7 linked regions of the Homo sapiens genome follow. The gene in region 5 interacts genetically with the main gene of each other region. Each region holds a gene or a part of one and is shown on either strand. Other genes may lie near its edges.

The links.
Region 1: changes in TIMELESS (region 5) and CACTIN together harm fitness more than expected from each alone (negative genetic interaction), as found in Homo sapiens cells (one large-scale study listed by BioGRID).
Region 2: changes in TIMELESS (region 5) and TSEN2 together harm fitness more than expected from each alone (negative genetic interaction), as found in Homo sapiens cells (one large-scale study listed by BioGRID).
Region 3: changes in TIMELESS (region 5) and PDSS2 together harm fitness more than expected from each alone (negative genetic interaction), as found in Homo sapiens cells (one large-scale study listed by BioGRID).
Region 4: changes in TIMELESS (region 5) and STXBP4 together harm fitness more than expected from each alone (negative genetic interaction), as found in Homo sapiens cells (one large-scale study listed by BioGRID).
Region 6: changes in TIMELESS (region 5) and MAPKAP1 together harm fitness more than expected from each alone (negative genetic interaction), as found in Homo sapiens cells (one large-scale study listed by BioGRID).
Region 7: changes in TIMELESS (region 5) and REXO2 together harm fitness more than expected from each alone (negative genetic interaction), as found in Homo sapiens cells (one large-scale study listed by BioGRID).

What each region holds. Positions count from the first base shown.
Region 1 is NC_000019.10:3,612,891-3,617,107, reverse strand, and holds part of CACTIN (splicing factor Cactin), read left to right. Parts: exon of another isoform or gene 1-2,512; intron 2,513-2,518; coding exon 2,519-2,711; coding exon of another isoform or gene 2,712-2,715; exon of another isoform or gene 2,716-2,722; intron 2,723-3,177; exon of another isoform or gene 3,178-3,521; coding exon 3,522-3,644; exon of another isoform or gene 3,645-3,742; coding exon 3,743-4,050; exon of another isoform or gene 4,051-4,217. UniProt on the Homo sapiens protein: Plays a role in pre-mRNA splicing by facilitating excision of a subset of introns. Required for the splicing of CDCA5/Sororin, a regulator of sister chromatid cohesion. Involved in the regulation of innate immune response.
Region 2 is NC_000003.12:12,490,456-12,494,849, reverse strand, and holds part of TSEN2 (tRNA-splicing endonuclease subunit Sen2), read right to left. Parts: intron 2,715-4,394; coding exon 2,633-2,714; intron 2,622-2,632; exon of another isoform or gene 545-2,621; intron 1-544.
Region 3 is NC_000006.12:107,151,708-107,156,104, forward strand, and holds the end of PDSS2 (all trans-polyprenyl-diphosphate synthase PDSS2), read right to left. Parts: intron 3,071-4,397; coding exon 2,912-3,070; 3' UTR 855-2,911; downstream 1-854. UniProt on the Homo sapiens protein: Heterotetrameric enzyme that catalyzes the condensation of farnesyl diphosphate (FPP), which acts as a primer, and isopentenyl diphosphate (IPP) to produce prenyl diphosphates of varying chain lengths and participates in the determination of the side chain of ubiquinone.
Region 4 is NC_000017.11:54,971,265-54,975,658, forward strand, and holds part of STXBP4 (syntaxin-binding protein 4), read left to right. Parts: intron 1-4,394. UniProt on the Homo sapiens protein: Plays a role in the translocation of transport vesicles from the cytoplasm to the plasma membrane. Inhibits the translocation of SLC2A4 from intracellular vesicles to the plasma membrane by STX4A binding and preventing the interaction between STX4A and VAMP2.
Region 5 is NC_000012.12:56,415,028-56,418,485, forward strand, and holds the end of TIMELESS (protein timeless homolog), read right to left. Parts: intron 3,333-3,458; coding exon 3,107-3,332; intron 2,982-3,106; coding exon 2,880-2,981; intron 2,760-2,879; coding exon 2,689-2,759; 3' UTR 1,336-2,688; downstream 1-1,335. UniProt on the Homo sapiens protein: Plays an important role in the control of DNA replication, maintenance of replication fork stability, maintenance of genome stability throughout normal DNA replication, DNA repair and in the regulation of the circadian clock.
Region 6 is NC_000009.12:125,700,495-125,704,888, forward strand, and holds part of MAPKAP1 (target of rapamycin complex 2 subunit MAPKAP1), read right to left. Parts: intron 1-4,394. UniProt on the Homo sapiens protein: Component of the mechanistic target of rapamycin complex 2 (mTORC2), which transduces signals from growth factors to pathways involved in proliferation, cytoskeletal organization, lipogenesis and anabolic output.
Region 7 is NC_000011.10:114,441,970-114,446,363, forward strand, and holds part of REXO2 (oligoribonuclease, mitochondrial precursor), read left to right. Parts: intron 1-1,886; coding exon 1,887-1,964; intron 1,965-2,571; coding exon 2,572-2,683; intron 2,684-4,009; coding exon 4,010-4,118; intron 4,119-4,394. UniProt on the Homo sapiens protein: 3'-to-5'exoribonuclease that preferentially degrades DNA and RNA oligonucleotides composed of only two nucleotides. Binds and degrades longer oligonucleotides with a lower affinity.

The sequences.
Region 1 (4,217 bases), on a different chromosome or scaffold from region 5:
CACTCTGTCACCAGGCTGGAGTGCAGTGGTGCGATCTCTGCTCACTGTGACCTCTGCCTCCCAGATTCAAGCGATTCTCCTGCCTCAGCTGCCCAAGTAGCTGGGATTACAGACGCGCGCCATCACGCCCAGCTAATTTTTGTATTTTTAAGGAGACAGGGTTTCACCATGTTGGCCAGGATGGTCTCAATCTCTTGACCTCATGATCCTCCCACCTCAGCCTCCCAAAGTGCTGGGATTACAGAAGTGAGCCACTGTGCCCAGCCACTTCTGAAAATTTTTTGTAGAGATGGGGTCTCACTGTGTTGCCCAGGCTAGTCTTGAACTCCTGGCCTCAAGCAATCCTCCTGCCTCACCTCCAGAAGGGCTAGGATTAAAGGCATGAGTGACTGCATGCTTTTTCTTTTTAATTTTTACAAAATTAAAGTTTTTTTATTATTTCTGTAGGTTATTGGGGAACAGGTGGTGTTTGGTTACATGAATAAGTTTTTTTGTTTTTTGAGACGGTGTCTTGCTCTCTTGCCAGGCTGGAGTGCAGTGGTGTGTTCTCAGGTCACTGCAACCTCTGCCTCCTGGGTTCAAGCAATTCCCCTGCCTCAGCCTCCCAAGTAGCTGGGATTACAGGCACCTACCACCACACCTGGCTAATTTTTTGTATTTTAGTAGAGACAGGGTTTCACGATGTTGGCCAAGATGGTCTTGATCTCCTGACCTCGTGATCCACCCACCTCAGCCTCCAAAAGTGCTGGGATTACAGGCGTGAGCCATCGTGCCCGGCCGTTTACATGAATAAGTTCTTTAGTGGTGACTTGTGAGATTTTGGTGCACCTAGCTTTTTCTAGGAAGTTCTAACCCTACAGGAGGTTGTGCAGTAGAAAACGGGTGTCATCCCAGCTCAGCTTCATTAGCCTCCCACCCTGTGTAGGGCCTGGCCTTTCCCCCACGCAGCCCCAGGGCCCTTGGCCTGCACCCCCAGCCTCTAGCAGCTGCTGGGACCCCCTAAACCCCCGGGCCCCCTTGTGGGCATTCGGGAGGCATCCAGACATGCAGCAGCATGTCCAGACCCGGCTTTCTATAGACGCTGACCTGGCGGCACCTGGCCTGGCTTCCTGGGAGCCTCGCGGCTGGGCTCTTCTGCTTGGGTTTCAGTGTTCGTGGTAGCCCCGCCTGTCTGGGCACGGCCGCGCTGTGCTTGGCTGGGGCTGCCACGGATTCCAGTGCCACTTAGCGCCCAGCAAAGGGGCTGCAGCTCTGGGTGCCGATTCCAGGGTCCCAGGTGATTGGCTGGAGGGGACTCGGGTCCGTCTAGACTCTATCCAGTCCCCTGTGGTGTAGGTGTGGGCCTCTTGACCCTCTGTCCGCCAGCGGGGACTGGAGAAGGCAGGTCTCGAGCAGGGTGCCTGCACTGGTCACCCCCGCCCAGTGTGTCACCAGCAGCTATGCACCAAGCTCCCTGTGGGCCCAGCATGGCACAGGGAACAGCAGCAGCCAGCCCCATTGCCCGCCTCGGGAAGCTGCCATCGCTGGATGGTCAGGGAGGGCTTCCTGGCGGAAGGGATGTTCTCACTGAGCATGGAGGATGCGAGGAATTCAGGAAGCGAATGGGACAGAGAAGGATGGGTAGCTGGCAGGAAGCACAGTGCGTGCAAAGGCCCAGAGGTGGCAGGGGTTCGGCATGGGCAGCAAGGGGCAGGGTTGCGAGGTGAGGCCAGACCCAGCGGGGTGGGTGGAAGTGGCCTGAGAGCAGCACTGAGGCCGCCGGGATGCCACGTGGTGTGGGGCAGAGCACGCGGAGTCAGGCTAGGCTCCAGCCTCCCAGCACCCCACTCCCGCCCTCAGCAGCCTCCCCGTCTATCGAGGAGGGACTTGAGCCTCGGGCCCCTGGGCCAGTGGTAGATGCCAGACAGACTCCATGTAGGATGGGGGGCGGCGGTGGGGAGCTGTTTGTCCTGGGGCGGGCCCAGGACTTCCCCAGGGGCCAGCAGGGTGGCCTTCTTTGCTAGGCTTCACAGAGGGAAACTAAGGCCCAGAAAGGGCAGGCCACTTGCCCACAGTCACACAGCCCAGGCTGGCAGAGAAGATCTGAATTCCAGAGAGCCTGGCTACCGAGCACACCCCCCAACCCCCTCATGGACTGCCCAAGGCCAGGGCAGAGTTGGGCCAGGTTGGTGGGCCGGGCCCACAACTAGGGTTCCCAGACCCACATATCAGACTCACCTGGGGAGGGGCATTCTCAGGGCCAGTCCTGGCCTCCCCCACGCTGGGGGCCTGGGCCTCCAGGTCAAGGCCTCAGCAACTGCATCTTAACGTGGCTCCCAACCTCCGCCCACCCCCTCCCCTCCGCTGTGGCCAGGGTGGGGACAACCTGAGACCAGGGAGGTGGCGGGACTGGATGGGACCCCTGTGGGGGAAGAGGAGGGGAGGGGGACCCCCCCATGGCAGGGGAGGAGGCCCTGATGGGGTGGAGGAGCACGTAGGAAATGTGGAACCGCCCCCCCATGCCCCCACCCCGCTGCAGGTGAGCGCCGCGAGGGGGTCAACGCCTCCGTCAGCTCTGATGTGCAGTCGGTGTTCAAGGGGAAGACATACAACCAGCTGCAGGTCATCTTCCAGGGCATCGAGGGCAAAATCCGCGCTGGTGGCCCCAACCTGGACATGGGCTACTGGGAGAGCCTCCTGCAGCAGCTTCGTGCCCACATGGCACGGGCCCGGTGAGCACTAGGTGCGGGTACCAGGGTTGGTGCCGTCCGGGTGGGATGGGTTTCGCCCCCTCCTGAGTCCTGGGTGGGGTGGGTCTCGCCTCCTCCTGGGACCATGTGGGGTGGAGAGGGGCAGGAAAGTGCCGACTGGCCGGGGCCAGCCTGTGAGTGACGAAGGGGGGCCGGGGGGCGCGTAGTCCCGTGCCCTAGCGGGAAGGCCCCAGGATGCTCCAGTGCCCTCACCTGGAGTCAGCCCTGTTGGTCTCACAGGGCTCCCCAGGAGCTTCCGCCCTTTAACGAGTACCTGGCGCGCTCCAGCAGCCATGGCATCACAGGAAGCCCCCAGGCGGCCTGCCTGTCCCCACTGCCTTGCGCCCAGGCCTGCGCCCTCCCAGCGCTGCTGCCTCCCGGCCTCTGGCTGTGTACAGATTTCTGGAGTGTTTTTGGCACCGCTGTGTAAATACATGTCTCCTCTGCTAATTTGTAAATGTCTCTAAATTTATCATGCTTGTTGGCTGGTGTCCTGCTGGGCCCCTTCTCCTGGCCAGCCCCAGCCACAAGACACTGAGACTGCAGCGTGAGACAGAGACCCACCTCTCCCTGCCATGGGATGGTTCACCAGGGTACCTGCGTCCTCTCGTCCTCTCTCCCATAAGCCTTGACCCTGAACTGACCAAGCCTGGGCAAAGGTCCCAGCCAGAGCCGTGGCTGCTCGCCACCTTCTCAGGGTCCTTGCAGCAATAAGGGGCGTGAGAATCTCGGTGGGGGTGGGGCGCGGAGCCCCTTCGCCTCCATGCGGGTGACCCCGGCTCTGCGTCCCAGGCTGCGTGAGCGCCACCAGGACGTGCTGCGGCAGAAGCTGTACAAACTGAAGCAGGAGCAGGGCGTGGAGAGCGAGCCGCTGTTCCCCATCCTCAAGCAGGAGCCCCAGTCCCCCAGCCGCAGGTAGGCCCGGCCGGCACCCCGGGGACGCCGATGCAGACGCGGAGCAGGATGGAGGGGCCGTGGGCAGCCTCCGCGCCTCCAACGCTCTCTCCTCCCAGCCTGGAGCCTGAGGACGCGGCGCCCACCCCGCCCGGGCCCTCCTCGGAGGGCGGCCCCGCGGAGGCCGAGGTGGACGGCGCGACCCCGACAGAGGGCGACGGCGACGGGGACGGTGAGGGCGAGGGCGAGGGCGAGGCGGTGCTCATGGAGGAGGACCTGATCCAGCAGAGCCTGGACGACTACGACGCCGGCAGGTACAGCCCGCGGCTGCTCACGGCGCACGAGCTGCCACTGGACGCGCACGTGCTGGAACCGGATGAGGACCTGCAGCGCCTGCAGCTCTCGCGCCAGCAGCTCCAGGTCACGGGTAAGGGCGGGGCTGGAGGCCAGGGGGTGGGGCCAGTGGGGCGAGCTGGGGGCGGGGCTTCTCCAGCCTCATTTCCCGGCCGAAGCCGCTGGCGTCAGTGGGGAGCTGCTTGCTGCTTCTCCCCCGGGTCTCTGAGCGTGCATTCCGTCACCTGCACGCGCACTGGG
Region 2 (4,394 bases), on a different chromosome or scaffold from region 5:
CCAGCCAAACTTTTTTTATAATTATGTAATACATTTATATGGTTACAAAGTCAAATCTATAAAGTCTCACCTCTCTCTGCATCCTGTTTCATCCCTTCCTACTGGAATTTTTAAAAAACTATGCTTTATCCTTCCATTTAAAAAAAATTGGTCAGGCGTAGTGGCTCATGCCTGTAATCCCAGCACTTTGGGAGGCCAAGGCAGGCAGATCACTTGAGGTCAGGAGTTTGAGACCAGCCTGCTCAACATGGCGAAACTCTGTCTCTACTAAAAATACAAAAATTAGCCGGGCATGGTGGGATACACCTGTAATCCCAGCTACTCACCCAGGAGGCTGAGGCAGGAGAATCGCTTGAACCCAGGAAGTGGAGGATGCAGTGAGCTGAGATCGGAGATTGCACAACTGTACTCCAGCCTGGATGACAGAGTGAGTGAGACTCTTGTCTCAAAAAATATAATAAAATATCTATTTTATATTTCCATCTTTTTAGATAAACCACAGCACAGCATGTACTTTCCTTTATACTGTGCTGTCTTCGCTTACCAGCATATCCTAGCGATCTCCCATTCCTGTCTCAGCTCCACGGTCCTTCATTATATGGATTAATTATATAAATATGGATTATTCCACAGGTCCTCTCCTGATGAACATGTAAGTTGTTCCCAGTCTTTGGATATTACAGTGTTGCATGAATAGCCCTGTGCTATTTCTTTTCATATTTTTGTCAGCGTATTGTTAAGATAAATTCCTAGAAGTGAGATTGCTGGATCAAAAGTAAACGCATATACTGGGACAACTGGATATCCACAGGCAAAACAATGAAGCTGGACCCTTACTTTACACAGTATACGAAAATTAACACAAAATGGACCAAAGACCTAAACTTAAGAGTTCAAACTATAAACCTCTTAAAAGAAAACACCAGGGAAATCTGCATGATTTGGACTTGGCAACGGTTTCTTAAATAGATACCAAAAGCACAGGCAATAGTAGAAAAAATAGATAAATTGGACTTCATTAAAATGAAAAACTTTTACCATTTAATACTCATTAGGATGACTATTTTATTTTATTTATTTATTTAGAAATGGAGTCTTGCTCTGTTATTTATTTATTTATTTAGAAACGGAGTCTTGCTCTGTCGCCCAGGCTGGAGTGCAGTGGTGCAATCTCGGCTCACTGCAACCTCTGCCTCTCGGGTTCAAGTGATTCTCCTGCCTCAGCCTCCTGAGTAGCTGGGATTACAGGTGCACAGCACCATGCCCGGCTAATTTTTGTATTTTTAGTAGAGATGGGGTTTCACCATCTTGGTCAGGCTAGTCTCGAACTCCTGACCTCATGATCTGCCCGCCTCGGCCTCCCAAAGTGCTGGGATTACAGGCGTGAGCTACCGCGCCTGGCCGACTATTATTTTTTTAAACAAGTGTTGGCAAGGATGTAGAGAAATTGGAACCTTTGGTGCATTGCTGGTGGGAATGTACAATGATGCGGTCAATGTGGAAAATAGTTTAGCTAGTTCTTAAAATGTTAAACAGACAATTATCATATGACCCATTAATTCTACTCCTGGGTATATATCCAAAACAACTAAAAATAGACTCAGATACGTGTATGCAAATATTCACAACAGTATTATTCAGAAAAGCCAAAATACAGAAACAATCTAAGTGTCCATCAGCAGATGAGCTAAAGGCACTATGTCCAAACAATGGAATATTATTCCACTATAAAACGGAATGAAGTTCTGATAGACACTATGGCAGGGACAAACCTCGAAAATATGCTAAGTGAAAGCAACAGACACAAAAGGGCAAATATTGTATGATTGTTATTTATATATGAAATATCTATAATAGGTAAATTCATAGACAGAAAACATATAAAGGTTACCAGGGACTGAGGAAAGAGAGGAATGGGGGAAAAGAAAACAAAGTAAATGCATAGGTAATTTTGCTAGACATTGCCAAATTCACCTCCATGAGGGTGGTACCACAAGCACCCCACCAGCAATGCAAGAGAAGGTCTGTTTCTGAAGTCCTCACCAATGCAGTATATTGTCAGACTTTTGGATTTCTGCCTGATTGTTGACATGTTATCTCAGTGCAGTTTTAATCTGTATATTTTCTTACAATAAAACCTTTAAAAGATCCTTTCTAATTATGTTTTAACATGCTGGTATTGGTTCTTAAGTAATTACCATGAGAATTCCTTAGATAAATATTCTAAAACATTTATAAATTAAAGAGAATCAGCAAGGGAGAACCACACACATACATGTCATGGCTATTACAAATTCTAATTCTGGAAACAAAATTTTAAAAATTTTGCATAGTGCCACAGGTGAGCAGGTACTTAACTACCAGTACCTGCCATAGGCATAGTACTCTGCTAAGCAAACACTTAACAACAGAAAAGCCCAATTAACACTTGATAATTCTAGAAATTAAACACACTGTCACCCAATCATAACCCTTTTGCTTTGATTAGAATTATTCTAGCTAACTTTGGCAGTAAAACTGCCAGTGTACATGTTACTTCTCTAGAATTTTACTATATAGCCTGAGATATAAGATCAAAAACAAAGGAAAATGATTAATTTGTCAAAAGAACTGAATGATACAACAACTTTACCTTTCCATTTAGCAACCAGTTTAGGATCTGAAATTGTGAAGCTTGGACGGCTTCTTGAAAGAATACCTTTTCCAAAATAACCCTTCCAGGAAGAGAGAAAATGAAGTTAGTTCATGCTTAGTTACCAGTTTTTTAGCTGAGGTAGAATATACAGTAATCCCTCAGTATCCACAGGGGGCTGGTTCCAGGACCTCTGGTGGATACCAAAATCGGCAGATGGTCGAGTCCCTGATATAAAATGGTGCAGTATTTATATATAGTCTACGTAGGCCCTCCCATATACTTTAAGTCATCTCTAGGCTACTTATAATACCTAATGCAATGCAAATGCTATGTAAATAGTTGTTATATTGTTTAATATAAGAAAATAAAGTCCCCGTTTGGTACACATGCAATTTTTCTCCCAAAATATCTTCAATCCAAGGTTGGGTGAATCCACGGAAGTGGAACCCATGATATGGAGGGCCGACTGTACCCATCTGAGTTAACAAGAGGTTCGCCCCACTTTTCATGTCTTTACATTTTCCCTCTGATTATCTAATGATGACTAAGGATGTTCTTAGCGTAACACCTTTCTAATCGCTTCAAGAGTACTAGTAAGTTTTTAGCACACCTCATTTATCCCATAACTAATGCTTTCAGTCTAGGTCTGATAAGCCGAGGGCAGGCAGAGGCAGAGTTTCTTCTCTACATATGGTTCGGGAACACAGTGTGCCTGAAGGCAGGAGCCATGCTGCCCACTAGGTCCAAAAAAACCTCTTGGATTCTTTTGTACTCCAGAATTGAAGTATTCCTCTCATTCCTGCTGATTCCAAAAACAACATGTATTTTTCCCCTTTTCATTACAAAATATTTAAACACACAGAAAATTGAAAGAATAAAACAAACACCCCTTTCTCCATTTAGATTAACAATCAGAATAAAGAGGCCAGGTATGGTGGCTCACACCTGTAATCCCGGCACTTTGGGAGGCCGAGGTGGGCAGATCACTTGAGGTCAGGGGTTCAAGACCAGCCTGGCCAACATGGTGAAACCCTGTCTCTACCAAAAAATACAAAAATTAGCCAGGCATGGTGGCATGCGCCTGTAGTCCCAACTACTCGGGAGGCTGAGGTGGTAGAATCACTTGAACCTGGGAGGTAGAGGTTGCAGTGAGCTGAGATCATGCCACTGCACCCTAGTCTGGGTGACAGGGTAAGACTCTGTCACAAAAAACAAACAAAAAAAACACCCAGCAACAACAAAAACCAAGAATAAATAATGCATACAGCACTTTATAAAGCCTCTTGCTTAATGTTATATACTGTAAATGAAGGCCTCCCTGGTGAGCTGCCCTTGGCCTACTGAGACTCCTGCCTCACCATGGCCAGTGCCACCCACTCTTCTATCAAGTGTCTAGAGAAGGCACATTTATGGAGACAAGACGCCATTCCGTGGCTGCCTTGGGCCGGGAGTGGGAGCAGGGATTAAGTGTGATGGGCACAAGGGAACTCTGTGGTGATGGGAATGTTCTAAAACTGGACTGTGGTGAGAGTTGTGCAACTCTATAAATTTATGACAATCACTGAATTGTATACTTACAATGGGAGGACTTTATAGTTGTAAATTATAACTCAATAAAGCTGTTTTTTAAAAATGCCCACAGCAATGAACAGATTATGGAAAATTTTTTTTAAAGAACTACCAGTCTTCATTCAACTTGATCAATGCTGGAAAACAGTAAAAACTAGAACTTGTCCTCATCTGAGAAGAGGTCCCCAAC
Region 3 (4,397 bases), on a different chromosome or scaffold from region 5:
GCCTGGAGTGAGTAGTGAGTGAGGTTTGCAGGAGCCAGCTGACAATTTGGGGGGTGCTAGGCAGAGGAAAGCAGGACAATTGCTAATGAATGAATTCTTCCCTCTAGCAGGTAACTGGGGATGGGGAAAGCTGGAGAGGGGCCAAGGACACATTCTAGAGCCATTAATTCTACTTACTGCCTCCATTAGCCACACCCAGGCAGCAGCAGGCTGAGAGGTGTGATTGAGGAATGTTTCAGTGCCCCAAATTTCTCCTTAGAGATTGTCTGAAACTATAAGAACTTCATATGTGCTAAGAAATAAATATCCCTGAAGAAGGGGCAGGGAGAAAGGCTATTGGTCTTGTATTTTGGAGTGAACTAGCCAACTTGTTATGTTCTGTAAAAGCCTGCCGTGATGCTGAGGAAGTGAGAATTCTGCTAAGTGGGGCCTGAGGAAGGAGGCCAGCCACCCCTGTGGGGGAGGCAGAGCTCTGTCACTCAGCAGGCAGCAGGGGGCTACTGCTCCCAGGGATCCAGGTTCCAGGGAGTCAGGATGGCAAGGTACAGGAGATGGGATAAAGGACACGAGAGCAGCTGGGAAGATGACAGGGAGGTAGGAAAGGTCCCGAAGAAAGCAGCAAGGCAGGTGTTGAGACAGAAAAGTCCAGGGTTACATGTCACATAGGAGAGCTGGAATCCTTTAGGTCATGCAGAGGCAGCTTGGCAGGAAGCTTGCCATTAAGCTCTCTCCATTCCTTCAGGGCCTCTCTTTGGGTTTCACCTTCCCTCCTCCCTGAACCTCACACAGCATCTTTGCTATTTAGACAGTCAAGAATAGTAAACTTTCAGAAAATAAAACAAACCTGGAAAGAATTTCATAATTATCTTGTTTAATCTCTTTTTTTTTTTCACACTTGACTTTCAGGTCAACTTTTGAATCTCATTGTACAGATGAGAAAATTGAGGCTCAGAAGGAAGTGACTTGTGCAAGGTCATACAGCAAACCAGATGCTAACGCAGAATAAGAGGCGCCCTAGGATCCTGCCTGGTGCCCTGCAGTGCCCGACCATCTGCTTAGTAAAACCTACTGCTTGCTGAAGTTCCTGCACATCCAACCAGCACACCTAACGCAAAGTATGACTTCTTTGTGGAAGTTAATGATTAAAACCTAGTCTGATCTAAAGCATCTTATCCATGGTTACTAATTAAGCCAATTTCAGTGACAGAAAGCATTTCAAACAGAACAGTGTTCTCTTAAGCTAAATCTATAGGCCTCAAATTATGGTGGCATAAACTGTACAATTATGATATTTTGAGTACACTTAAAATATTTTATAATACAATACATTAACCTCTGTAGCTTTACATTTTCTCTTCATTGCATGCCACATGTTGGGCCCTGATAAAATGGTTTTATAACTTTTGGGGGAGGGCTTTAACTAAAATAACTTCATGTAGTGTTTGAGCGAACTAGGTAATAAAATCTGTTTGCTGTATTCGCTGTCTCCAGATAGGGCTGTAATTACACCACATGAGGAAGAAAGGTAGCTGAGTTTCAATCTAGATCATTTATGTAAACTCAGCCTTCTTGTCAACGGTGTTCTCAAATTGCATGAGTGCAAACCTCAAAAATCATCTCCTATGAACCACACAGAGACAGTGTCCGATTGCAGGCCTGTGAGATTGCTTATATTCTTTCTGTAATTGGATGTCTGTGGTTCAAGACCAAAATTTGACATTCTGAGGTTAAAAGAACACTCTCACCAATGAATTCCCTAGTACAAAAATTCTGTTTCTGAAACTCGTAAAAATTAAAGTATGCCTTAAACCAAAGTATTACAAATGAATACATTTCACTTGAAAAAAAGCTCCTTTTTCCTTAAAGAAAAAAAAAATTTGGTTCTTTGAAATGTGTTTGAATAAAAAAACTGATCTTCAGGAAAGAAAAACAGACTATTCCTAATATAACCAATTTAACATTTGATAACATTTTAATCTCCTACTTCAAGTATTTGGCAACTTTTCGGCAATTTCTCCAAAAAGACATTATAAAAACCATAAAGCACAAAGTATATTCATACTGCATTATAAATCCAGAGACATGAGGCCAGGTGCAGTGGCTCAAGCCTCTAATCCCAGCACTTTGGGAGGCCGAGGCAGGCGGATCACCTGAGGTCAGGAGTTCGAGACTAGCCTGACCAACATAGTGAAACCCCATCTCTACTAAAAATACAAAATTAGCCAGGCGTGGTGGCAGGTGCCTGTAATTCCAGCTACTCGGGAGGCTGAGGCAGGAGAATCACTTGAACCCAGGAGGCGGAGGTTGCAGTGAGTCAAAACTGCACCATTGCACTCCAGCCTGGGCAACAAGAGCAAAACTACATCTAAAAAAAAAATAATAATAATCCAGAGACATAATTACAAGCCAACAAATAAAACATATTTTTCTCAATCCATTGAACTACTCTCCATTATGACAAATTGGTCACTAGTTTTTGATTAGACAATCCTCCCTGGTTGGTATTGAGAGCATTTCTCTTGACACCTGCAGCTTCCAACTTGCTTTGTCCTCTCTAGCAGGAAAAACCACAGGCCACCGCCCTGGCGCCATCCCTGGCTCGGTCCAATCAATAAGGACTTATTTCCTGTCCATTTGCTGAGGTCACAGGAGCGAATCTCATTAATTATTTCTGCGACTGCAGCCTCAAGTGTGCTTCTGGCGTGACAAGTGAAAACTGCTTGACCTTTTTTTCTTCTAATTTTGTTTGTAGCAGTTCCAAAAAGAAAGCAGAACTCATTTAGCAATGTGATAAAAGGAAGGAAAAATGCATATGTTTTAAAAGTCATTAACGCATCGTGAAAGCGCTCCCAATCAACCTCATTCCCTAGGATTTTCAGCTAACTAACAATAGTGTCTTTTTAATTTGATGTCATGAAAATCTGGTCACAGCAAACACAATGTTTTCTAAAGCAGATCTGGCCTCCGAGGGAGGAAAGCTCTCCAGGGCCTCCAGTGCCTTGTTTCCATGGTAACGACACAGGTCAATAGCTGAAGTCACACCTTTGCCAGCTTTGATTCTTTCTCGCAACTGTTAAGAAACAAATGCATGATAAAAGTCAGTTTTAAAGGTACACAGTAAGCACCACAATTAAATTGGGGAGGGGAGATGGAAAACAAAGAAAGGGAGAAATAGTATAGATTGAGTATTTCTGCTACGTTATTTTCTGGAAAAGAGGACATCATTTCCCAGTGATCTTGAGGCACTCATTCCCTAAGGCTGCTTGGTGTCTGTGCTCCAGAGCAGCACAATAGGTTCCAATCAGCTTAATTACAGCTCCTCCTGACTCCCATCCCTTAATATCTTGAAATGTGCCATGCTGGGGGATGGCAGTAAGAAGGCGGAGGGCATTTACATCTCTGGCATTTTGAATTCAGCAGCCTGATATTCTTCCCTTTTTTTTTTTTTTTTTTAAAGAGATGGAGTCTCGCTCTGTCGCCCAGGATGGAGTGCAGTGGTGCGATCTCGGCTCACTGCAACCTCCGCCTCCTGGGTTTAAGCAATTCTCCTGCCTCAGCCTCCCACATAGCTGGGACTACAGGCATGCGCCACCACACCCATCTAATTTTTGTATTTTTTAGTAGAGACAGCGTTTTGCCATGTTGGCCAGGCTGGTCTCGAACTCCTGACCTCAAGTGATCCACCTGCCTAGGCTGCCCAAAGTGCTGGGATTACAGGTGTGAGCCACCGCACCTGGCCAGCAGCCTGATATTCTTATGTGAGGAAGGCTTCACTAATATCTTAGTTAATAACTTTTTTTTTAACACCATATGTTGACACAATAGTCCATATGAAAATTCAAGAAAGACACATAGTATTAGATCTGAATGTTACTTTTTTTTTTTTTTTTTGAGACGGAGTCTCACTCTGTTGCCAGGCTGGAGTGCAGTGGCACAATCTCTGCTCACAGCAACCTTCGCCTCTCGGGTTCAAGCGATTATCCTGCCTCAGCCTCCTAAGTAGCTGGGACTACAGGTGTGCACCACCACGCCCAGGTAACTTTTGTATTTTTGGTAGAGAAGGGGTTTCGCCATGTTGGCCAGGCTGGTCTGGATCTCTTGACCTCGTGATCCCCCTGCCTTAGCCTCCCAAAAAGCTGGGATTACAGGCATGAGCCACCTTGCCCGGCCTTTTTTTTTTTTTTTTTTTTTTTTTTTTTTGAGACAAAGTTTCGCTCTGTCATCCAGGCTGGAGTGCAGTGGCATGATCTTGTCTCATTGCAACCTCCGCCTCCCGGATTCAAGCAATTCTTCTGCCTCAGCCACCTGAGTAGCTGGGATTACAGGCGCCTGCCACCACACCTGGCTAATTTTGGTATTTTTGGTAGAGATGGGGTTTTGCCATGTTGGCCAGGCTG
Region 4 (4,394 bases), on a different chromosome or scaffold from region 5:
GTAGTCAGCTTGGACTACCAATAGCAAAATACCACAGACTGGTTGCTTAAACAACAGAAATACTTGTTTCTCAAAGTGCTGAAGGCTGGAAAGTCAAAGATCAATGTATCAACTGATTCACTTCCTGGTGAGGGGTCTCCCTGGCTTGTGACATCTACCATCTTGCTGTGGCCTTACATAGATTGGAGTAAATGAGCTCTTATGTCTCTTATAAGGACACCAATCCCATGAGATCAGGTTCCCACCCTTATGACCTCATTCAACCATAATTACTTCCTAATCCAAATACAGCTACATTGAGGGGTTAGGGCTTCAACATATGGATTTTGGGGGATATATATTAAATTCTTTACATCATGTTATTCATGGACTCTACATAAATTACCCCATTTGTCCCAATCATTTCCATTTTAGATCTAGGATTTAATCCAGGATTACTCGTTGATTTTAGTTGTCATGCCTCTTCAGTCTTCTTCAATCTGGAATAGTTGCCAGTCTTTTCTTGTCTTTTTCTTTCCTTTTTTATTTTTATTTTTATTTTTATTTTTGAGAGACAAGATCTTGCTGGGTTGCTCAGGCTGGTTTCAAACTCCTGGCCTTAGGTGGTCTTGGTCTCCCATAGTGCTGGGATTACAGGCATGAGCCACCGCACCCAGCCTTATCTTTCATGACTTTGACATTTTTGAGGAATACAGGCTGGTTACGTGATTAAATGTGCCTCAATATAGGTCTGTCTGATGTTTCCTCATGTTTGTGACCCCTTGACAGGAATATCTTAGAGGAGATGCTGTGCTTCAATCAGTGAGTCCTCTTAGGCATCACATGATCTCAATTTATTCCGTGGTTTCATGATGTTAACTTCTGTTTCTTTAAGATTGGGTCTGCCAGGTTTCTCTGTTACAAGGTGAATTAGCAAATATGTCACATTCATAAATTAATAGGCAATGTGTGTTTTGTGGGGAGAATCTTTGTGTTTTGTAGGGAGAAGCTTTGAGACTGTAAATATTCTGTTTCTCATCATATTTTCTCCTGCCAGATTTCTCCATTGATGCTTCTTGTTTGAATCTGTTATCACTGTGATGGATGCCAAATGACAATTTTCTAATGTTATCAGTCCTTCTAGATTTATTAGTTGGCATTTTACTGTAAGGTAGGGTTTTCCTTGCTATACCATATATTTCTTGTTTATTCGTTTACATCAATATAGACTCATGACTTCAAATTTTAATCAATTTATTACTATTATTTTTTAATTCTGATTTCAAATTTTCTTAGACTTAGCCAATAGAAGCCCCTTTATGACATGTTTCCATCATTCTTTCATCACTTCCTTATTTTCTGGCACTACAATGTGCCATGCTTATCTTGTATTTTCCTGACCTGCCTTGGAATCAGCCTTCTCTGCCACGAATTTTGGTTTCTTTAGTGGAAAGTGGCATTTAGAAAAAACTCTGAGCACTAGAAGTGTTCATTACTAGCCTCTCTCAGCAGAGACCCTAGAAAATTTTTGTGTATAAACAAGTGTGCATATGTGTGTTCAACAGCAGGAAATCTGGCTACCTTTATCTTCAGTGTATGTACTTACTTGCTCAATTCCCCCCATATGTAAGCAAATTACTGTGGCTGAAAGCTTGGCCCTAGAAAAGTGAATTCATCTCTGCCTGGTATGTCAGCCCAAAGCTGAGTATTAAATATGCTGCCCACTGGACACCATCCAAACACTCAGCAAGACAAAAGTGACGAGGAAGAAAGAAAGAGAAAAGTGTATTTAGGAAGTTCAGCTCCAGACATTTTAGAAAGGGTAGGAGGAAGGAGGAAAGGCCAGTTAGGAAGTTTGGTTCTAGACACATAGGCCCTTTCACCTACCCTTTTCCCAAGCTCAGCGCATGGATAGGGGAAGCAGGCTTAGAATGATGAGTTAACTTGTCCAAGCCTAATCGGTTGGGTAGTGGCAGAGCTGGAGTTTAAGCCTGGATTTTTTCTGACTCCTTACAACTTGCTATTTTTACTGCGTCTTGTAGAAAGCAGCTTTGCAACGGATGACAACAAAACAACAACAAAAACACTGAAGCCTTTCTTTTCTATATTAGGAAATATTTCTTTACTTTTGTCTCAGGTAAAAATCATCATTAACGTGGTTAGATGCCTATTTGTAAGATGGCATATTTGAAGTTATTTCTAAGCTAGAACAAACAGCTTAGACAGAGTTGAGCATAGTAGGATTGGGGTCAGAGACCGAGGTTATAACCTGGATACAAGGAGTTCTTATGATGATGAAAGGTCTGTCAATATGCATAGATACAATAACAATACAACATTGGGAGATGCTGAAATGAATATTTTTTTCTCTAAAGCTTTAAATGAATGCATAAGCCTGGGCTGCAATTTTTGTGAGTCTGAGTGTGCTTGTAATAATACATAAATTGTTACGATAACTAATGCCAAATAATGGATTATACCATGAATGGAATGAGAGCTCCTCAGGGCAGGGCTAATCCAACCCTGTTTTGTAGGTAGAGGTGTTAATTACACATTTTAAATATCAAGAGCTGGACTGACATTTCAGATTTGACACCTTTAATTTGCAACATTATTCTTCAGCAATAAACGTTAAACCTTGTAAACTCTTTCTGGTTAGCTATAATCATGTCCAATTTTATATATTAGGTAAAGTAAGTTATATAAGTTATTTTTCATATAAGCCATTTTGATATTCACATAATGTTTTCTTATCTGATTATTGATTTTTAGGCTTTCTATGGATTATAAAGATGTATTATTTTAAATTTTGGTATTTTTAATCCATAACATAAGTTAAGGAAATTGGGACTTCAGTCTTAATATGGTGGTCGTCACTGAACTGTATTTTCTAGTGGTTTTCCTGATAAAGCTCCTGAATCCATTTAACGATGTGAAATACCTAACAATAATTCTGACAATACTCACAACTGTTTATTTGGTAGCTATTTTTATCACAATACTTGTATCTAAAAGAATAAGAATAATGTATTTGAATAAATAGTAAGTACAAATATATGGTGTTTGCTTAAGAAAAGGCAGGGTAATCATTGTTTTCCAATTAGTGCACAATAATGCCCTGAAGTCGTCTCAGTCAGTTTTGATACCCTAGTTTCTTATTTTCTGGCAGTGGCCTCTGTGCCATCTTTTTGAGGAACTACTCCGTTTAAAAGCTCTTGATTAAGTTTATATGATTGACAGATAATGTGAAAGGAAAACAGAAATCATTTATCAATAGAAGGCATTTATTAATTCAAGTAATGTTTATCAAGATCAGGGCCAGCTTCATGAAAATATGACCTGTGCAGTCACACAAGGCCCTACTCTTAAAAGGGCCCCTCACTTATGATGTAGGACATGCAAGCCCCCAAATTGGGGCTTAGCCCAGGAGGGTTCTTGGCTTGGCCTAGAAAAGAATTCCAGGGCAAGCTGGTGGTGTTAAACAGCAACTTTTATTGAAGTGGCATTGTACAGTAAGCAGCAGAGAGACTGCTTCTTGCAGAAAGGGGCTACCCCATAGGCACTCTGCCCAGAATAGCAGCTTAGAGGCAGTTTTGCAAACTCATAGTTATACCCGCTTTTAATTATATGCAAATTAAGGGACAGTTTATGCAGAAATTTCTAGGATGAGTGTGGTAATTTCCAGTTCATAGGGTCATTGCCATGGAAAGGGGTGGTAAGATCTGTATGTTGCCATGGCGATAGTAAACTGATGTGGCACACTGGTGGCCATGTCTTCTGGAAAGGCTTCTATCCAGGAACTTTTTAGCTGATCCTCAGGTTCGTTCCAAGTCCTGATTCCTACCCCACTTAGATAAGCCCTGTGTTTGTTTAATGCTCTACTGTCAGCATCTTGAAATTATTTTTTGTTTTTGAGACGGAGTCTCACTCTGTCACCCAGGCTGGAGTGCAATGGCATGATCTCGGCTCACTGCAACCTCTGCCTCCCAGGTTCAAGTGATCTTCCTGCCTCAGCCTCCTGAGTAGTAGCTGGGATTACAGGCGCATACCACCATGCCCTGCTAAAAATTCTTAATAATTATTTAACATGGGGCCTTGCATTTTCATTTTGTATTGGGCCCTGCAATTTATGCAGCCAGTCCTGGTCAAGATGTAAATAGATATAAATATAGATAGAGATGCAGATACAGATATAGGCACAATATTATATCTCAAATGCACTGACAGACAGTCTCACATGATTCAGGCCAAAGCACAGTCTAATTACGTGATTTAATTATGTGATTAAAGGCAAAGGCAGAAAACTAGGGAAAGTACAAAAGTGGAGAGCCTTTAGAGCCTTTACTTTTAACCTTTAGAAGGTTAAAGGTAAGAGATAAAGGGAAAGGCAAATTCAGGTCTCCTGAGAATAGTCA
Region 5 (3,458 bases):
TTTTCTTTTTTTTTTTTCTTTTTTTGAGACGGAGTCTCGCTCTGTCACCCAGGCTGGAGTGCAGTGGTGCGATCTCAGCTCACTGCAACCTCTGCCTCTTGGGTTCACGCCATTCTCCTGCCTCAGTCTCCTGAGTAGCTGGGCTACAGGTGCCCGCCACCATGCCTGGCTATTTTTTATATTTTTAGTAGAGATGGGGTTTCACCGTGTTAGCCAGTGTCTCGATCTCCTGACCTTGTCATTCTCCCATCTCGGCCTCCCAAAGTGCTGGGATTACAGGTGTGAGCCACCATGCCCGGCCAATACATAGTAAATTTTCTATACTGATAAACACTGCTAGAAGAAACTGGAGCTGGAAATTTCAAAGAGGGATGGAAAGTCAGGGTCCAGTTCTGGACATTTCTTAGAAAGGCAGCCACGGCCGGATGCGGTGGCTCATGCCTGTAATCACGCCACCGGCTCATGCGGTGGCTCAAGCACTTTGGGAGGCTGAGGTGGGAGGATCATTTGAGGTCAGGAGTTCCAGACCAGCCTGGTCAACATGATGAACCCCCATCTTTACTAAAAATACAAAAATTAGCCAGGTGTGGTGGTGCATGCTTGTAATCCCAGCTACTCAGGAGGCTGAGGCAGGAGAATTGTTTGAACCCAGGAGCCAGAGGTTGCAGTGAACTGATACTGCGCCACTGCACTCCAGCCCGGGTGACAGAGTGAGATTCCATCACAAAAAAGAAAAAAAAAAAAAAAAAAGGCAGCTGCTAGGCCGAGCACGGTGGCTCACGCTTGTAATCCCAGCACTTTGGGAGGCCAAGGCAGGCGGATCACCTTCGGTCAGGAGTTCAAGACCAGCCTGGCCAACGTGGTGAAATCCTGTCTCTACTAAAAATACAAAAAATTTGCGGGGCGTGGTGGCTCGTACCTGTAATTTCAGCTACTTGGGAAGCCGAGGCAAGAGAATCACTTGAACCTGGCAGGCAGAGGCTGCAGCGAGCCGAGATCATGCTGCCACACTCCAGCCTGGGTGACAGAGCGAGACTTCGTCTCCAAAAAAAAAAAAAAAAAAAAAGGCAGATACTGGGGACAGCAGGACACAGCAAAGGAGCAGCACAGCCCGGATCATGGAGGGAAAACAGAGCAGCCCTGCTGGAAGGAAGCAGTGCTCAGGTTGCGAAGTGAAGAAAAGCTCAGGATGAAGAGACACCAAGACTGGCCAGAGCTAGAAAGTGTCTAGCCCTTGGAAACTTCAATTACCATGGAAATAGCTTCACTCCCACTTTTAGAGGCTATGGGAGATCCTCATCTTTTCAGGAAAAAATAAAAATGAAAAGTCAAAGCAACAGGGCAATCCAAATCCATCCTTTACTTAGAAGCCTTCCTGAGCTGAATGGCTATTTTCTCAATCTCACCTTTGCCCTACCTCGGCTGGAAGCACAGGAAGCAAGAAAGCTGACGTTTCCAAGAATGGGTAAGAACATAATATTTGCAGTATTTATCCATCCTTTTCATGCCTAGATTTTGTCCTTTTCTATGCCCCATGCCAACAAGCTGGCTTCTCTTCCTTTATGGCTCCTCCTTCTTCCTGCCGCATACTCTTGTCACCCTAAGAATTTACCCTAGACAAAAGGATCTAGAGGCAAAAATGCTTTTCTGTGTCTTCTGTAGGGAAAGCGGAAGAAAAGGGAAGGTTGTTGGTCTTTTTTTTTTTTCTTTTTTTTTGAGACAGAGTCTTGCTCTGTCGCCCAGGCATATGCACTGGCGTGACCTTAGCTCACTGCAACCTCTGCCTCCTGGGTTCAGGCAATTCTCCTGCCTCAGCCACCCGAGTGGCTGGGATTACAGGCGCATGCCACCATGGCCGGCTAATTTTTGTATTTTTAGTGGAGATGGGATTTCGCCATATTGTCCAGGCCGGTCTCAAACTCCTGACCTCAGGTGATCCGCCCGCCTCAGCCTCCCAAAGTGCTAGGACAACAGGTTTGAGCCACTGTGCCGGTCTGTTGGTCTCTTTTTACCCTAAAATTGTTAAGTTCTTCTTTCAAGAGCACAGCAGGGGAAGGGCTGGGGAACTTAGACATATCGCCAAGTCAGACTGAGATGAGAACTTCTAATCTTACATGTTTAATACCAAACACAAAGCAAACACATTCATCATCTAGAGTACTATATTCCAACCCTATCTCAAATGCAGGAATGGGCCTCTATCTGGTATCTAGAGGATGATCATAGGAAACAAAATGAGGACAGAGGCATCTGGTATCTTCTAAAAGTGGTACAAAACTCCCGCCTGTCATGTCATAAAGCTCCCCATCTGGTGCTGCGACCCACCTCCAAGAGAAAGCCAAAGGAACAGACCAATAAAAGGGGTCCGGGGTGCTTTCTCTATTTCACTCACTCCTCTTATTTGCTAAGGAGCTCCAATAACCAAAAGAAATGGTTCCTAGAAGAAGAGAACTAAATCTCCAGAGAGCTGCTGGGGCATACCGATAAAAACTGGGAGAAACAAAGACTGACAGCAGAGAAGTCCAATACTGCTGCTGAAGTTTCTCAGCCTAAATCCGTGAAAGAGCCTGGGATTCTACTGCTCTGTCCAGTAAGAGGAGCTTCTGGGTCCTGTATGACCCTTCCAACTCTGACTTGAATGCACCATCTAAAAACGTGTCTATCTCTACCCCTAGGCTTCTTAGCTCTTCAGTCATCCTCATCATCCTCAATCTGGTATCGTTTCTTCTTTTGGATTCCTGGAGCTCCCAACTCTGGTGCTGTGGGAACGATGGGGGTGAGAGAGAGAGAGAATATCTAAATATGTTAAGGGGTAAGGACGTGGTAGAGTTTGTCTTCAGGATTAGAGAAGAAAAAGAAGGTCCCATCAAATTCCCTACCTCTGTTCCTGCCCTCATCTTCTTCCTGTTCCTCGTCGCTGTCCAGCAATTGTCGTTTCTTGGGTGCTGCCTTCAGCGGCTCTTTACCAACAGCGTCTTCCTCTGCAATGACCATAAATGACACAAAATTAGGAACTCGGTCCTCATATTCTCAGAACACCTTTCCTGCCCTCTAGACCAACATGGCTGACACGTTAATACTCAGAAGATGGCTGTCGCACTATTACCCTCTGGGGATGCCAGGCCCGCTTTCTTCTTGTGGGCTAGCAAGAGGGCCCTCAGGGCTTGTGCTCGGTGCTCTTTACAGTGCTCCTCATCAGAGCCTTGCTCTCCAGGGACTTTAGGCTGCAGCTCTGGCTGCAGCTTCTGTTCCTCCTCTGGTTGACTCAAAGAAGCTGCTGCCCTCCGGAGCTGGGTAGGACTCAGCTTGGCTGGAATTCGCCAGAAGGTTTCCTACAGGGGCCAAAAAGTTGAAAAGGGAAAGGACCAGCTTTTTGTTTCCCAGAGTATGATATTCATTGAATATATATGACCCAATATTGGTGAAGATCCACAAGGGTTGTGAACTCTATTTATTAT
Region 6 (4,394 bases), on a different chromosome or scaffold from region 5:
CTTAATTCCAATAGTTATTCTAATACCTTCTTGTTCTTTCTAGAGTTTCGGGTTTGTTTTTTAAGTGGTTTCTCCCATTTTTCTCACTTTCAATTACATAAAACTGTATTCTACTTTCAGTCCAAATTTTGTGTTGCCTATATTAAATCCATTTCCCCAATATATCTAGACTGCTGCCAACTAGAGTTAATAAATTTTGAATGACTGCTCAGGATTTATTCCCTTTATTTTTATATTCTGTTATTTCCTTATACAATAGAGTATGAATGAAAACAAGTATCTACAAGACCAGTATTTCTTCAATTTTCACCTTGTGAAAGCTGGGTATTAAAATAAAAATAAATTAAACTCTTGGGCTGGGAACTCCCTGACCATATTTCTCTCACTGTGCTGGGTGTCTCTACGCCCCCTTTCAATCTTGAGTACATATAGTCAATAGGCACTGCATGCACTGGGGGAGCACCTGGCCCATCAAGGGCCTTTCCCAGAGGAAGTAATGAATAAAGAACAGATGAAGAGCTGAGTAGTGGTTCCTGACCTGCCAGCAAGAGAGGAGGGGCAGCATTTTAGATTTGAGTCATCTCCACTGGAGTCTGCCAGTAATCAGTTGTGTGACTTTAAGCATATCAATTAGAAACAGAAAGCTTGGCATCCCGAAAAGAAAACCATTCCTTCAATTTTCTACCAATTTCTCTGCTGAAATGGTACTTATTTGTAACACAGTACCTTAAAATGAGTCCGCAGGGAACTGGAAAATGTTATTTTTTTGAAGTTTTACACATTCAGTATACTTTGCATCAGTAATAAAAGTATATTAGTAAAAGTATACTCAAGTATAGGATATTACGAATTGAATTTCAGCAAGACTTGAATTTTACTCCTCATTATTTATCCAAAAAGGAAAAAAGATCCGAGGATTTGTAAGTGACGTGACCAAACTCCAAAGGCTGTTAGCGGTATCCGCATATTCAGGATGCAAATCACTCTCTAGTCAACTGCACTTGCTACTAAACTGTGATTCACTGGCTGTTAGTGGTATCCGCATATTCAGGATGCAACACCCTCTCTAGTCAACTGCTCTTTCCACTAAACTGTGATTCACTGGGTGCCGATTTCTTCATCTCAAGAGGTGATGATTACCCCCTTTGTAATACTACCTATCTCATAGGACTATGAAGACTAAAGAAAATAAGGTATACAAGAGCATTTAACAAATTTACCATACCACTTCATACTATTGTGGAGAGGGCCAAGAGACAAGAAATCTGGTAGCATTTAAAGTGCTAAGAGCACAAAATAGAAGTGTTATAAGGTCATCTCACCAGCCAGATCTATACTTTAGCTTGATTATACAATAAAAGCATTGACCTTGCCACTCTCCAAAACTATCAGCGCAAGCTACAATGCCCCCTCACACTGGCAATTTACCATGAGATTTCTAATCAATAATCAAAACATTGTATTGTATACTTCCTGCTCTGAACAACAGGTACCAAAATTTCAGCAGCCAGGTAGGTTGGAGTTCACAATCAGGCAGCCTAGAATTACACTCAGCCCACAAATATGTTTTGATCAACATAATTTTTAATGGCAAATTTTTAAACTAAATACATTAAAATCCACGACATGCAGTGGCTCACACCTGTAATCCCAACAATTTGGGAGGCCATGGCAGGAGTATCATTTGAAGGCAGGAGTTCAAGACCAGCCTAGGCAACATAGATAGACACCATCTCTACAAAATTTTTTTAAAAATTAGGCCGGGCGCAGTGGCTCACGCCTGTAGTCCCAGCACTTTGGGAGGCCAAGGCAGGTGGATCACCTGAGGTCGGGAGTTCGAGACCAGCCTGACCAACATGCAGAAACCCCGCCTCTACTAAAAATACAAAATTAGCCAGGCGTGGTGGCGCATACCTGTAATCCCAGCTACTCAGGAGGCTGAGGCAGGAGAATTGCTTGAACCCAGGAGGTGGAGGTTGCAGTGAGTCAAGATCGCGCCATTGCACTCCAGCCTGGGCAACAAGAGCGAAACTCCTTCCCACAAAAAAAATAAAAGCAACAACTAGCTAGTACATGGCCGGATGCAATGGCTCACCCCTGTAATCCCAGCACTTTGAGAGCCTGAAGCAGGCGGATCACTTGAGGTCAAGAGTTCAAGACCAGCCTGGCCAACACGGCAAAACCCTGTCTCTACTAAAAATACAAAAATTAGCTGGGCGTGGTGATGGGCACCTGTAGTCCCAGCTACTCAGGAGGCTGAGGCAAGAGAATCGCTTGAACCCGGGAGGCGGACATTGCAGTGAGCCAAGGTCATGCCACTGCACTCCAGCCTGGGCAACAAGAGCGAGACTTTGTCTCAAAAAAAGAAAAAAAAAAAAAACTAGCTACACATAGTGGCATGCGCCTGTAGTCCTAGCTATTGGGGAGGCAGAGGTGGGAGGATCACTTGAGCCCAGAATTCAAGGCTGTAGTGAGCTATTACCACGAAACTGCACTCTAGCCTGATAGGACGATACCCTGTCTCTAAAAGTTAAATAAATAAATAAGAATAAATTAAAATCCAGATTTCCAGCATCTTTTCCAAAAAGTGTCAAAAGATCCAAGGACACTGGGCCCACTTCCTCACATGGCAACAAGCAAGTGGAGCTGAGCAGCAACTGCTCCCTTTAGTTTGGGCCCGTGCTCTCCAGTTCATCAAGGCCCAGCCTACTCATCCTAGTACATAACAGGCATCGGACTTGGAGACCACTGAGGAAGATGCTCAAACAGAACAATAATAATAATTTAATGAAGATTTGTTTACTCTTTTTTGGCCAGTTTTTTGTGGCTCTATCACACATTAGCTCTGTGACTCTTAAGTAACATATTTAACCACTAAGCCTCTTAAATTTAACACAAGCTGAAATATGCTGACTTCTGAGTCAAAAAACTTCACAAAAACTTCGAACTCACAGAAACAAGTCAGGGCACCTCCCATAGGGAAAAAACGTAATGTGGCCACGAATGGTGGCTCACGCCTGTAATCCCAGCACTTTGAGAGCCCGAGGCAGGCAGATCACTTGAGGTCAGGAGTTTGAGACCAGCCTGGCCAACACAGCAAAACCCCGTTTCTACTAAAAACACAAAAATTGGCCAGGCGTGGTGGCACCTGCCTATAGTCCCAGCTACTTGGGAGGCTGAGGCAAGAGAATCTCTTGAACCCAGGAGGCAGAGGTTGCAGTCAGCCAAGATCATGCCACTGCACTCCACCCTGGGTGATAGAGCAAGACTGTCTCAAAAAAAAAAAAAAAAACAAGTAACGTGACAGAAGTCCTTGTCATATAATAATTTGACATCTACAACTGCGTCCGTAACAGTAAGGCCTATACATCAGAATAACAGATTGCCAGCAAATTATCTTAGGCTGAATCATATAAATCCACTCAACTGCAAAAGTTTCTGAAGTCTTCAGGTATAAGTCAATAAGCAAAACAAGCTCCCCCACCAAAAAAGAAAAACATTTAAAGTAACAGATAAGGCTATGAGCTCCTTTAGTGCAAAGGCCACTTCCATTCCTCGTGATCCCTCCTGTCTCACAATGACTGGCACACTGAAGCTACAGCTCAAGGGCAAGTTTCTCTCTGAAGCCTTTCCAGAGGGTCCGCATCCACATCACAAAGAACAAGCAACATGGTGTAGTAATGAAGAGTGCCGATCTCAGTGTTCAGCAGATAATCCCCTCTATCTTACAGCTCTACCAGCAGCATAAACTCAAGGAAGTTATTCAAGGTCTCTGTGCCCCAGTTTCCTCATCTGTAAAATCAGGATGCTAATAACACCTTCTCACACGAGAAAAAAATGAGATAAAGCATTTAACATCACACCAGCAGAGTAAGTACTCATTACCTACCATCATCAGTGTTTCCTTCTCAGTGTTCTATGGTACCTCCTGGGGACTTCTACCTTAGAACCCACAGTACTTTATTATGGTTCACCTGCACACACACAGACATCTCCTCTACTAGAATGTCAATAACCTCAGGATAGGGACCCAATTTTACTTCTTTTTGTATCCCCAAGGTCTAACATTTTGCTTGGCACTGCTGAAATGAATCGTAGATCCTCGAAGTATTTATTAACTGGAAAAGTTATTAGCAGAAACTGGAATTTACCTCCCTTGCCTGGTACTCAAGCCCTCACTGACTCTGACCCCTACCGCCCCTCCAACTTTACGTCCTTGTACCCTGCTAAAAGAAGCAATGACTTGCATGACTCAGGCTGTAAACTCACTCACCAGTCTAAAACCATGCCTCAAGCATTATACCTTTGTATCTTATAGCTATTTATTTCGGGGGACTTTACCACGTACCAGGCCCTTTATCCCCATTAGTTCAATAAATATTCACAACACTCCA
Region 7 (4,394 bases), on a different chromosome or scaffold from region 5:
TACCAGTCTAACTTACCCTTGGCCGAAGAAGAGTGTTTCCTTTAGACTGTTGATATAATGTGAAATACTGACAGTTTAATGGACCCGTAGGTTGATATGTACCCTGGAGGAAATTTGGGTATGTATTCACACAGCTGCAGATGAATGCAGCATTTGTAAATGGACTAAGTCAGATGAGGATAAAGATGTTAAAAAAAAAAAAAAAGCTTAGGGGCTATCAGTTCTGCAGTATGTTTTATTCTTTTATAAGAGTCTGAGAAAAATGTTTTATGCTGGTAGAAGAGCAGGCATCCTACTCTGAAAATTTTTCTGTAGGTGTGGTCCCTTGGCTTGCTAAATAGGGATCTAAAATAGTTTGTAGTAGTTTGATTTTTCCATCATTGTTAGTATTTTTTTTAATAGTATGAGTATTTTTTTTCATTTTCATAGGTTTGGGTTTTCTTTTTCCTTCGTGACTATCATAAAACATCTGTTATCCAAGCAAAATTTTTTGTTTCTTCGCAGAGATTACCAACACCAGTTTTCTTGTTTGGCTAAATCTCCTTTTTAGTAGTAGGATGTCAGGCGTATTTTAATTAAATTCTAGCCATTTCTTTCAGTGATTGTGAACTGTTTTTACCACCTTAGTAGTAATAATACCTTGGATTTATGGAATACTTTTCTATCAGAGAGTTCAAAGAGCTCATATCTATAATTTCTTTTATCCTGTTAACATTTCTATGAGGGAAGGGGTACAGTTTATTATTATCACTATCTTACAGAGGGAGAAGCTGAGGTGACTTGCTTTAATGCCGTAGCTACTGTTAACTGCCAGGACTTATCTGAGAGACTCATACTTGGATGTTCTATGAAATGGAGCTGAGAATTTGAGGGCTACTTTGTGTTTTGGATATCAACAATTACCTCTTTAATTTTTTTTTAAATATAAAAATACTGTTAAAACAGTGTAACTATCCAAAGTATGTGTGTAGTGAACTATTGGATTTTTGTCCTGTTCTATTGCTCCTTCTTACTCCAAGTTTATGTATTGTCTTGATATTTTGTATGTTTATATAAATGCGTGTTTTTTTTAAAACAAGTGTAAATGAAATCATACCTATACATACATGGTTTTGCAATTGTTTTTTTCACCTGCAATATAGATACTTTTTTTTTTTAAGAGATAGGGTCTCACCCTGTCACCCAGGTTGGAGTGCAGTGGCATGTAGCTCACTGTAACCTCGAACTCCTGGGTTCAAGTGATCTTCCTGCCTCAGCCTCCTGAGAAGCTAGGACTGTAGGGGTGTGCCACCAGGCCCACCTAATTTTTTTTTTTTTTTTTTTAATTTTGTAGAAATGAGGTCTTGCTATGTTGCCTGGACTGGTCTTGAACTACTGGCCTCAAGTGATCCTCCCACCTCGGCCTCCCAGAGTGCTGGGATTACCATGCTTGGCCTAGACACTTTTCAAAATGAACTCATAATCAAGGGTTGACAGACTTTTCTGGAAAGAGCAAGTTATTAAATTGTTTAGGCTTTGAGTGCAGTCATATGTTCTTGTCATATGTTCTTTTTTTTTTTTAAACAATCTTTTACAAATGTAAAAATCATTCTTAGCTTTCTAGCTATTAATAAATAGCTGAAGTGTGGGGCCATAGTTTGCTGACCCTTGATAGATATCTGTGTCATCTATTTGTAGGATTAGAGTTTTCAGTGGTGTGTGTATGTTCGTATGTTCTATTTTGCCTTAATGAACAGTGCTGGAATGAAGGGGGAACACTTAAAGTATCCTTATCTCTTACTTTCTCTGATATGTATATTTAGTCCTTAAAACAGCTTAAGCTTTCCCTCTGAAAGTAAGGTTATTCCTGTTGTTTCTTGGTGACTGATGGCGTTTCCCATCCACAGGGTCCTAACCTGATTATAAAACAACCAGATGAGTTGCTGGACAGCATGTCAGATTGGTGTAAGGAGCATCACGGGAAGGTAACATTACCAAATAACAGGATTGCTGCTTTGGGGATCAGTAGCAAGCTTTTTGCTCCCACACCTGAATCCGATACCATTGTTGGATGGTATTTTAAAAAGGCTTAGAGAAGATTGCATGGCAAGCCTGGGAAACTGCTTGCTTGTTTACTTTTCATCTTTGGGACCTCTCGAGATCATCTTCTCCTGAATGTCCTCTTTTTTTTCTCTCCTACATTCAGTCTGTCGCGAACGCATTGTGGATTGTCAAGTATTACTCAAGTCAGTCTTTTGGATAAGGTTAGACATCAACTTTCAGAGAAGGGGGATTGCTGCTCTCCTGTTAATAGTTGTTTCTTCCCAGAGGTTAATATCCTTGGACTTTGAACACCGTCTTTTTTGACTGTGGACATGCTATTAACAGTCAGGATCATAACTAAGTTGGCTTGGATTCTTGAAGAAAAAAAAATGGTGCAAAGATGGCAGTTGCAATTTGAACTTGAGCTCTAAAAATGGTCTATTTGTGGTTATATTTGCCCATTTTAAAAGTGAAATTTCATTTCTGGATGCCTTTGAAAACTGACTTTACATGTGTTTTTGGTGGGGGGCTGGGGATTCTCTCTTGCAGTCTGGCCTTACCAAGGCAGTGAAGGAGAGTACAATTACATTGCAGCAGGCAGAGTATGAATTTCTGTCCTTTGTACGACAGCAGACTCCTCCAGGGCTCTGTCCACTTGCAGGTAAAATCCAATCCTGTGTATATCTTATAGTCTTCCATATGTAGTGGTTCAAGAGACTGCAGTTCCAGAAAGACTAGCCGAGCCCATCCATGTCTTCCACTTAACCCTGCTTTGGGTTACACATCTTAACTTTTCTGTTCAAGTTTCTCTGTGTAGTTTATAGCATGAGTATTGGGAAAATGCCCTGAAACCTGACATGAGATCTGGGAAACACAAACTTACTCAATAAGAATTTCTCCCATATTTTTATGATGGAAAAATTTCACATGCACAGAGGAGTGGATTTAGTAATTGTTAACCTTGTGTCGTATTTGTTTTACCTATTTTTTGTTGGACATTTTAAAGGAAATTGCAGGCATCAGGACACTTCATTCCTAAATACTTCATCAAACATCTCCTAAGATAAAGACATTTTCTTATGTAATACAATGTCATTGCATTGAAGATAATTAAACATTATTCAGTATCATATGATATCTAGTCCACATTAGATGTTCCCCAAAATATTTGTTTTTGAACCAGGATTCAGTCAAGGCTCGTGCATTTCATTTAGTTATATTTCTTTAGTCTCTTAATGTAAAACTTTCCACCTATTATTTTTCCCCTGTGTCATTGACTTTCTAAAGAGACCAGGCCTGTTCTACCAGGATTTTTAAAAGGGTGACATTGCCAGAGGGAAGTTAATGTTTCTCTGAAGGTATATGTACGTTTGTATATGTAAGTCGATGTGGTAGCTAATACTGTTCTTAAACATTTATAAAAATAAGTTTTGGCATTAAGTACTAGAGCATATATTGTGTAAATGTTTCCGCCAGCCAATGTGGCTGATATCTGTTTTAAAGGTCTCATTTAAAATTTAGTGTTTTTAGTATAAGTTACTTTTTGGGGACATAAATATGCATATGATTTGTTTAAAAATTTGGATTGTAAATAAAGGTTTATCTACCTATGTGATTCAGTTAAATTTTTAGTGTTAGTGGTGTGAATTTTGTGACACTGGGAGAAAGTTTGCATATCAGGTATGACCTTAGAAAGTAACAAATAGATTTGTGCATTACATCAAGCATGTGGAATGATAGATTTGTCCTTCTGTTCATGAGAGGTCATTTACAAATTTATAAGGAGCTAAACTGACTAAGTACTTGGAAATCTGTACTTGTAAGCTAATCACATTTACCCAAACCTGATTTAGAAATATAGAGGTGCTTTTAGGAATTGTTTGAATTTTAAAAAATCATCTCCATTTCAAATACAACTTATGAATTTTGATATCCTGTTGTATAATACTAGAAATATAGAGATGCAGTATGCTTCGTGTCTTTCTAGGAAATTCAGTTCATGAAGATAAGAAGTTTCTTGACAAATACATGCCCCAGTTCATGAAACATCTTCATTATAGAATAATTGATGTGAGCACTGTTAAAGAACTGTGCAGGTAAGGGCTATATTTAGGATCCATTAAATTACCTCATTTAGCATGTTTTAATTGAGAATTTGTGGAAAGTAATTGGATAGAGCTGTAGAACTAAGGCTACCAAGTGGGTTCATATCTTCCTCATCCCATTCTTGCTTGTATAGGACCTTAACTTACCCTGGACTGGTGAGAATTGGGAGCAACAACGTCAGACATGTTCCCAGTAAATAAGCCAATGCCTGGCACAAAATAAGTGCTCAATACATTTTCTGGATTAACTAATATTATGTGGAAGTC